Regions from separate parts of the Homo sapiens genome. Here region 2 is linked to region 1. The links come from fine-mapping of genetic effects on gene expression. Tissue or cell type: tibial artery. Region 1 holds a variant in brackets; the other region holds the start of a gene. All regions are shown on one strand. Distances are between the middles of the regions. Region 1 has its middle 12 kb from the start of LINC02398. Region 2 holds the start of LINC02468 (long intergenic non-protein coding RNA 2468).

Region 1 (4,415 bases):
ATTTTCTAGTTTTCTGCACCTACTTTCTGTTGCAGTGTTTTTTCAGTGTAAGGTATTCAAATAATATTTGTTGAATTGAACTAAATTGAAGGAGAAATTTCTGAGCTTTGTCGTTTTACCTCTTTGGCATCTGTATAAGTTTTAATTTCATTCTCAGATGCCTACTGGCTCACTCAGTGTTAGGGTCTTCTGGGTCAGATGCTCCTTGTGGGAAGTTACGTAGTTTGGAAGCCTGGAATGTGTTGTTTATGCTAATGAACACACAGCTATCTTCTCCTCTACGATGAGATTGTCATTCAACTGTCAAACAGTGCTTATCCCAGGGCTGCTTTTTATGTATTTAAAGTCTAAAGAGATATCCTAAGCTCCTCTATAAGGACTCCTGAGATGTAATTATGAGTCAGTTAAATTTGTTTTTTTGTTTTAAATCATATTTCCCCATATTTTATTTATCTAAGACCAAGCACAATGTTTTCTTTATTCCCTATCTCTTAGATAGAGTTCACTTGCTTGCCAACAATAAGTCATCAGAGCCCAGTAAACAATATCCGTATTTAGCTTCCTCTCATTAGTTTGTCTGTTTTCTATCAGTCAAAGAGGTGTCATGTTGCAGACAGATCAACATTGCTACAAGATTCTTTTTACCTTTGATTGCTAAGAGGGGTAGAATAGGGTAATTCAGCAGAGTATGCTTTTAAAATTATTTACATGGGCAGTTTAAAAGCATTTTAAGAATCTGTTAATAAAGGCTATCAGTGGAACTAGGTGAATGGTAAGTGTATTTATATGTTAGACATGGTGGGTCTTTATTACTGTGCTCTTTCTTGTAGACTAGGATTATCTCTGCTATATTCACTCAAGAAACATTCATTAAGTAGCTACTATGAACTAGTTTTGGGCTAAGTCATAAGGATTAAAAAATGAACACAGAAATTCAGAAGATACCTTCCACATGCTTCTATAACCAAGTCAAGGGATCTACCTGCATTTTTACATGAATATTCTAATTTTCTTCCGGTTACAATAAATGAATTATATATAATTCTGTCTATCTTGATCTAATCCTCTTTCTTTTTTCAAGAACTTTGTTCCTGCTTTTGCCCCTTCTATCATAAATTTTCCTTCTTTATTGCATCCTATCTATTAGAAAACAAACATGCTGTAGTATATTTCGTGTTTGGAAAACCCACTCCAGACCACTTGTTCTACTTTATAGCTTGTTAAAAGAGAATTTTCAAAAAAGACAAAGGTATGGCTCTTCTACAGCTATAAAAGAGCAAATGTTAAACATTTTATTTAACATATTATTATGGGAGGATCAGGAAGATATTACAAGCAGTCATAGAAGAATCCAACCACATCACACTCATTAGTATGGTCACTATCAAAACAAACAAACCAGAAAATAAGAAGTGTTGGTGAGGATGTGGAGCAATTGGAATACTTGTGTGCTGTTGGTGGGATGTAAAATGGTGCAACTGTTATGAAAAACAGTATAGTGATTCCTCAAAAAATTAAAGTAGAATTATTGTATCATTCAGCAATTCTACTTCAGGCCATATACTCAAAAGAATTAAAAATTAAAAGCAGGGTCTTTAAGAGATATTTGTATACCTGTGTTCATAGCAGTATTATTCACAATAGTCAAAACGTAGAAGTGTCCACTGATGAATGAATAAACAAAATATGGTGTATATACACACAATGGAATATTATTCAGCCTTGAAAAAGAAGGCAATTCTGACATATGCTTCATTGTGGATGAATCTTGAGGCCATTTTGCTCAGTGAAGTAAGCCATTCACGAAAAGCCAAATACTGTATGATTTCATCTCTGTGAGGTACTTAGGGTAGTGAACTTCATAGAGAGATAGTAGAATGGTGGTTACCAGGAGCTATAGGTAACCTACAGGGGAATGGGGAGTTATTGTTTAATGAGTACAGTGTTTCCATTTTGCAGGATGAAAAGAGTTCTGGAAAGGGATGGTAGTGATGGTTGCATAACAGTGTGCCATGTACTTAACACTACTGAGCTATATATGTACTTAAAAATGATTAAGATGGTAAATTTTATGTATATTTTACCACAATCAAAAATAAATTTAAAAATAAAAGAAAAAGGAAAGAGGAAGGCAAAAAAAGTTAAGGAAAAAAAGATGTTAAGGGGAAAAATAATATGAACAGAGACATATATAGGGATTAGGAATTTTTTTAACTTTTAAAACTAATTTTTTTAAAAATTGACAGATGACATCGTATTTTTTAAACATGTACAACATGATGTTTTGAAGCATGCATACATTGTGGAATGGTTAAATCTAACAACTGCGTTACCTCACATAGTTAACAATTGCATTACCTCACATCCATCCAGCATACCATTTTTGTGGTGAGAGCATGTAACAACTGCTCTGTTTAC[G/A]TTTTTCAAGAATACAACATATCATCCTTAACTATAGTCACCTGGCTGAACAATAGATCTCTTAAATTTATTTCTCCTGTCTAACTGTAATTATGTATCCTTTGATCAACATCTCCTTATTCCCCTTTCTCCCCATAGTCATTCAGCCTCTGGTAAACTACTGTTCTACTCTCTACTTCCATGAGATCAACTTTTTCAGATTCCACATGAGTGAGATGGTGAGCTATTTGTCTGTATTAAGGACACTTAATATCCATAGTGTTGCAAATCGCAGGATTTCATTCTTATGGCTGAATAGTACTTCATTGTGTATATGTACCACATTTTCTTTAGGTCTCCATTTATTGATGGACATGTAGGTTGATTCCATATCTTGGCTATTGTGAATAGTGCGGCAATCAACATGGGAATGCAGATATCTTTTTGACATACTGATATCATTTCCTTTGGATAAATACCCAGTAGTGGGATTGCTGTATCATATAATAGTTCTAAATGTTAATTTTTGAGGCATCTCCATACTGTTTTTCATAATGGCTGTACTCATTTATATTCCAACCAACAGTGTACAAGCGTTTTCTTTGACCTACATCCTCGCCAACACTTGCTATCTTTAGTTTTTTTGATAATAGCCATTCTGGGGTGAGGTGATATCTCATTGTGGTTTTAGTTTGCATTTCCATGATGCTTAGTAATATTGAGCATTTTTTATCATATACCTATTGGGCATTTGTAGGTCTTCTTTTAATAGACATTTAATAAATGTGCAAATAGAGGCAAAAATGGCTTCTTCTGCAGTGAGAGAAGAAAGTCAATAGATCCTCTAAGGGACAGAATTTGTTTCCATATCCACAGACAAGAACAATTTTTTGCATTGTCATCATTTATGTATAAGAGACGAAGTTGTAAAATAGCCCCCATAGAATCAGAATTAGAGAACCTGGAAGAGTGTGCTCTAACCAATGCACCATTTTCCAGCAAAGCACATTTTTTTTTTCTACAAACGAAACTCTTGGAACAAGTAGACTACACTTTCTGTCATTCCCATGTATGGAAGAATAAAAATGGCCACAAGTTATTTGCAGCTCCTTACGTCAAGAGTTGGAGTCCATTGGCTGGGTGTGGTGGCTCACGCCTATAATCCCAGCACTTTGGGAGGCTGAGGCGGGTGGATCACGAGGTCAGGAGTTCCAGACCAGCCTGGCCAACATAGTGAAACCCCGTCTCTGCTAAAAATACAAAAAATTAGCTGGGCGTGATGGCGGGTGCCTGTAATCCCAGCTACTTGGGAGGCTGAGGCAGAAGAATCACTTGAATTTGGGAGGGGAAGGTTGCCGTGAGCCAAGATCGTGCCACTGCGCTCTCTCTAGCCCAGGCGACAGTGTGTGACTCCGTCTCAAAAAAAAAAAAAAAAAAAAATTAAAAAAACACAATAAGATGGAGTCCATTTTCTTACTCCTTAAATCTAGACTGGCCTTGTGACTTGTTTTGATTAATAAAATGTGGCAGAAGTGGCCTTGTGCAACTTCTGAAGATAGACCCCAGGAGGCCCTGCAGCTTCCACTCTCGCTGTCTTAGAAAGCTGCTGCCCTGTGAATAAGCCTAAGCTACCCTGCTGGAAAGACCACATGGGGAGGACCAAGGTGATCCAGCCACACTCTGCCAACCACCAGATATGTCAATAAGGCCATCTTATACCATCCAGTCCTGTCCAAGCTGTCAACTGACTATAGCCAATAAGTGAGTCTAAGTGAGAGCAACAGAGGAGATGTCTCGCTGAACCTAAGTGAAATTATCAACCACAAAATTGTGAATGAATAAATCACTTTTAAGCCACTAAGTTCTGGGGTAATTTGTTATTCAGCAAATATGGTAACTGATACAGATTTCACTAAATGGTACCTTAATTTTTCCAATTCTTCATACCCCAAAGTTTAGAGTTACCTTACCTATTCTCCTTTTTTAATATCCGGCATCTGACTTATTAGCAAGTACTC
Region 2 (4,415 bases), 130 kb after region 1:
GCTGCAGTGGGGAACACAGAGATGCTAACATTTTTAAAACTTACTTAAAATTATAAAAAAAGAAAGTCCATAAATTTTCACACTTTTATATTTATGAAATAAGTGAATTTCTGATCATATTTTTTTTTAGCTGGTGTGATACCAGGGTATAGCATTTGCTATTCTGGTTTAGTAATGTATTAAAATCTATTAAAATTGTGTGTAGTAGAATCAAAAATTTTAAAATGTAACTTGGACTTCTGTGTATCATGCTAAAAAACAATTTGAAACATACTTTTGCTCAGTTGCATCTCAGCTAAAAGTATTTTTTTCTTATGTGACTCTCTTGAATAGTTTTGTAATTATTGATGATTGTTAATGATGATAACATTTCTGGTCTTGATTTATCAAGTACCATAAACATTCACAATAGATTTGTAATTTCCTCAGAGTTTCAGGAATTAAATTAATTGCCACTATAAAAATGATTTTTGAAGCTCTTCTAGGAAGGGTACTTTGTTTATATTCTAGCTATTTCCTGAGGAATGGTGTAAATATTTCATAAATGTTTGGGAACCAGACTTTTTACGCCCAGTCTCACTATCCAACACATAAATTATCTCTTTCATCTAGATATTATTTTTTACTTTTAGGTACTTAGCTCTTTATTTACATGTTTTAAAGTGTGTTATTTCGCAGTAGTTTATTTGAACTAAATGAGATATTTCTGACATCAACTTTTAAAACTTGATGGTTTCTCTTGGATTTTTTTTTTTCGTAGACTTGCTGTCTCTAGTTCAAGGCTTGCTTTTGCTTGTAAACCTATAATGTTACAATTAAATGATGTAGCAGTTCAAGTAATGTTAACTACCCTGGATTAAAATGCTCTCAGGCAATTAAACGGCAGTTGTAAATCATTGGAATTTGGAAAAATAATCAGTGTCGTATGATAGTTGCATGACACATGATGGATCTGATTTTTAATATATGCCATCTTGATTAGAAAATGAAGATGAGCCTTCTGTAAAATGTCATGCATAAGATAGAATTAAGTAGAGGAAGGAAAAAAAGAACAGAGAATATGTGAATTTTTATTTTCCAGAATAGTTAGGGGAGGCAAACTTTAACTCAGAAAAGTGATAGAACTGCAACAATTCCATTAAATCAGTTATACTCACTGTGAAACACAAGTCACAGTTTTCGTTTTACTGTGGTTAAATGAAATAAACATTGTATTTGATAAAAGCAAGTAAAAGTCATATACACAACTTGAAATGACTCAATTAAATACTCCAGCATTGCCTTCCCCGTGCTTAGCTGGTATTGGTGGGGCTTCCTCTTACCTTTTTAGCTGTGTCTCTCTCCATATAGATATTTTTATTATCACCAGTTATTCGCTATTTTGTTCAAGATTGATTTGGTTTACTTCTATATATCTGTGATTATATACAAATAAGGTCATAACAAACACTAGTGTTTTTATTTTTCAGGAAAATCTCCAAGAGTTGGTGAATCATGCTGTTGCCAATAATAGGCATGTGACATAACTGAACATTTCATCATCTTCAGTAAATAATCAAGATGGTAAGAATTATACAGGATGTAGCATAGATTGTTAAATTTGTGAAAGTAAGTTGTAGGCTATGTTAGTTAGAATTAGGTTTGCCTGCTACTGACAGAAAACTCCAAATAACAACGTCTTAAACAATATGGATGTCTTCTTCTTCAAATAGAATCTAATGTCACCTTTGCAGAGATGACATGCTGGGTCTGTGATCACCAGGGATCCAAATGCCTTCGATCTTGGTGCTGGCTCACAATCACCAAGTGGCTTCCACCTCACAGTCTGCTGTGGTTGATTAAACTCCAGCATCTTATTGATGTTCTAGCTGGCAGAAACGAAAAAGAACCCAACAAGGGCAAGGTTGAATTACAAAGAAAGGAGAAAATATCCATTGGAGGACTACTATCAACCTCTGCCACAATTTCTACATTTTCTCAACGTATGAAATTTTAAAGTATACTACTAAATTTTAAAAATTATTCGTATTCATATTTTCAATGGTAAAACTATCGAGCATTCTGTTGTTTGTGCCAATTGTTTTACCAAAAATTTTAGATACAAGAAGAGACATTTATAACACAAGGTGTTTCTAACTGGAAAGTAAGCCCTGGAAAAATTTAGGAAACAAGAGAGATGTGAAACGTGCTTTATGTTATTGTGATTTTGAAATCTATTTTTTGGAAAAACTATGCTTATAAATAATTGAAACTTTAAGAGAGGTTGAAGACAGTGGAGCACAATTAAATTTTGTGGTTAGAAGGTTGCATTTCTAAAAAAAAATGTTTACTATTGAGAGGGCATTACAGTGCTATGAGGGCAGGAATTTTCGTTCATTTTCTTCACTTATATTTTTTGCAACCAGAGTAGTGTGTCGAACACAGTAGGGGCTAGATAAATGTTGAATTAATGATTGATCAATTGGTGGATTAAATTAGAGTAAAAGATGAAGAAACATTTCTTTTTATTTATTTATTTATTTTTATTATACTTTAAGTTTTAGGGTACATGTGCGTAACATGCAGGTTAGTTACATATGTATACATGTGCCATGTTGGGTGAAGAAACATTTCAACACATGAATTACAAGCAGATTTTTACAAAAGAGCACACATTTAATACTAAATTTGAAAATTCACCAAACATAGTAATAACATCAGTTTTTCCTTAGCTTATTCGATAATACGAGAAAACTGTGTAGGGAAAGAACAACTTGAGTACATATAAAACCCACTGAAGATGTCAAAATGTATCCAAATTTAAAAGAGGCTCTTAAATTTTATCAAGCTAAGAGAAGTCTGGGACTAAGCAAGAATTTATTTGTAGCAAGTCACAAAATAAAAATAAATTATGTGGCCTAGACTGCAACAGTCATAAAATTGTGGGAATTTTAATGAAGTTCTTTCTGAATTTAAAGAAAACCACAGAGGTTTCCTTATCATTATGCATGCCTTTTGCATTTATGAGTGATAATGTTTCATGAGTAAGTAAAAAAGTTGTAAAAATCCTAAATACTGTATGTCTTTATATGCTATCACTCAGAAATATGCAAAAAGATAAACACTTCCTCACAATATGTAAGCAGAACAAAGGCATTAGAAGTAAGCTATGCAAGTTGTAAAACATGGGTTGACATGTACTTAGTCTTATTTTATTGGTATAATTGAGACACATCTGGAGATTACTGAGTCTTGAAATATGCAGATGACTGATGAATTAAGTGTTTGGCTGACAGATTTCAAATTTGAAATTATAATTTCTTTAAAATGCTTATTTAAAAAAAGTCTTCTGTTGTGATTAGAATTCTTTTTCAAGGATGGAAATGTAAATATATTATGGATCCTTTTCCTTGGCCTTCAACAGAGAGCCATGATTTCATTTTTTTGTCAAAGAGAGACAATAAATATTTTAAATATATTTGGGAAAGAGAGAAACTATATGTCACAAACCAATCTCTATCTAAATCTTTCAAAGTACACATGCCCTGTCTTTAAAACAGGCAATTCATAATGAATTTTTCTTACTTCAAGGAATGAACTCATATCAAGTAACATGAAGATGTTCATTGAGAGCAGGGTTCAGTCTGTTTATTCACTGTATTCTCTGAACCTGGAACAGGTTCCTGGCACATAACAGATACTTAATACATATTTGGTATACAGGTGATTGAGTGAATAAATTAATAAATGAATGAACAACTAATCATATGCATATGTAATCCTAGAATTCCAATTTTACTAAAATTCTGCAAATTATGACTTCATCTATTATGTCAACATAATTTTTTCATTTTATGTATTTAAGGTGGCATTCATCATAACACTCAGAGCTGGCATTTAATGTTTTGAGTTGGCCAGTCATTACAGCAGGAACAAATGATTCACTTCCATTCTACTTTATCCTTAAGAGTACTTTAAGAATACTATAGAGAAAAATAAAATTAGTGCCTGCCATTAATGGATATTGGGAAATAATTGGTAACCAAACTGATGAACTCAGAAGGGCTCAGTGGCTCTGGGGTGAGACTTGCCACATGGCGGATGCTTCATTAATCATACCTCTAATAACTTATTGTTGCAATTTCATATATTCCCATAATTCACATTTCTGATTTTAGCTGGTCACTTCTAATATATATTGCTTTGGTTATAAGTTGATGCTATAATAACACTGTTGCTGAGAAGGACATTAGCATGATTTTATTAAAACCTTCCAGTATTATTAATTAATAATCTATTTGAAAGATATAAGCCAGAAATTTCTCATAAAGCTTTTGTTTTGTTTAAAGTCCTTGCTTAGAGTAACCACTATTACCAGTTCCAAGCAATCACCACTATCTCATAGACAAACTTGAATTTTAAGTATTACAGTTCAG

Evidence for each region. PIP is the estimated chance that this variant, and not a neighbour inherited with it, causes the effect.
Region 2: it holds the start of LINC02468, and the variant in region 1 is the best candidate, but not a certain one, in a credible set for the expression of LINC02468 in tibial artery (GTEx, PIP 0.64).

What each region holds. Positions count from the first base shown.
Region 1 is chr12:20,000,160-20,004,574 of GRCh38, forward strand. No RefSeq gene overlaps it. Among named protein-coding and RNA genes, the nearest start is that of LINC02398, 12 kb to the right of the region's middle. The variant G/A (reference allele first, on the strand shown) is at 2,419.
Region 2 is chr12:20,126,091-20,130,505 of GRCh38, forward strand. LINC02468 (long intergenic non-protein coding RNA 2468) reads right to left here and starts at 1,811. Exons shown (of 4, transcript NR_146523.1): 1 at 1,726-1,811.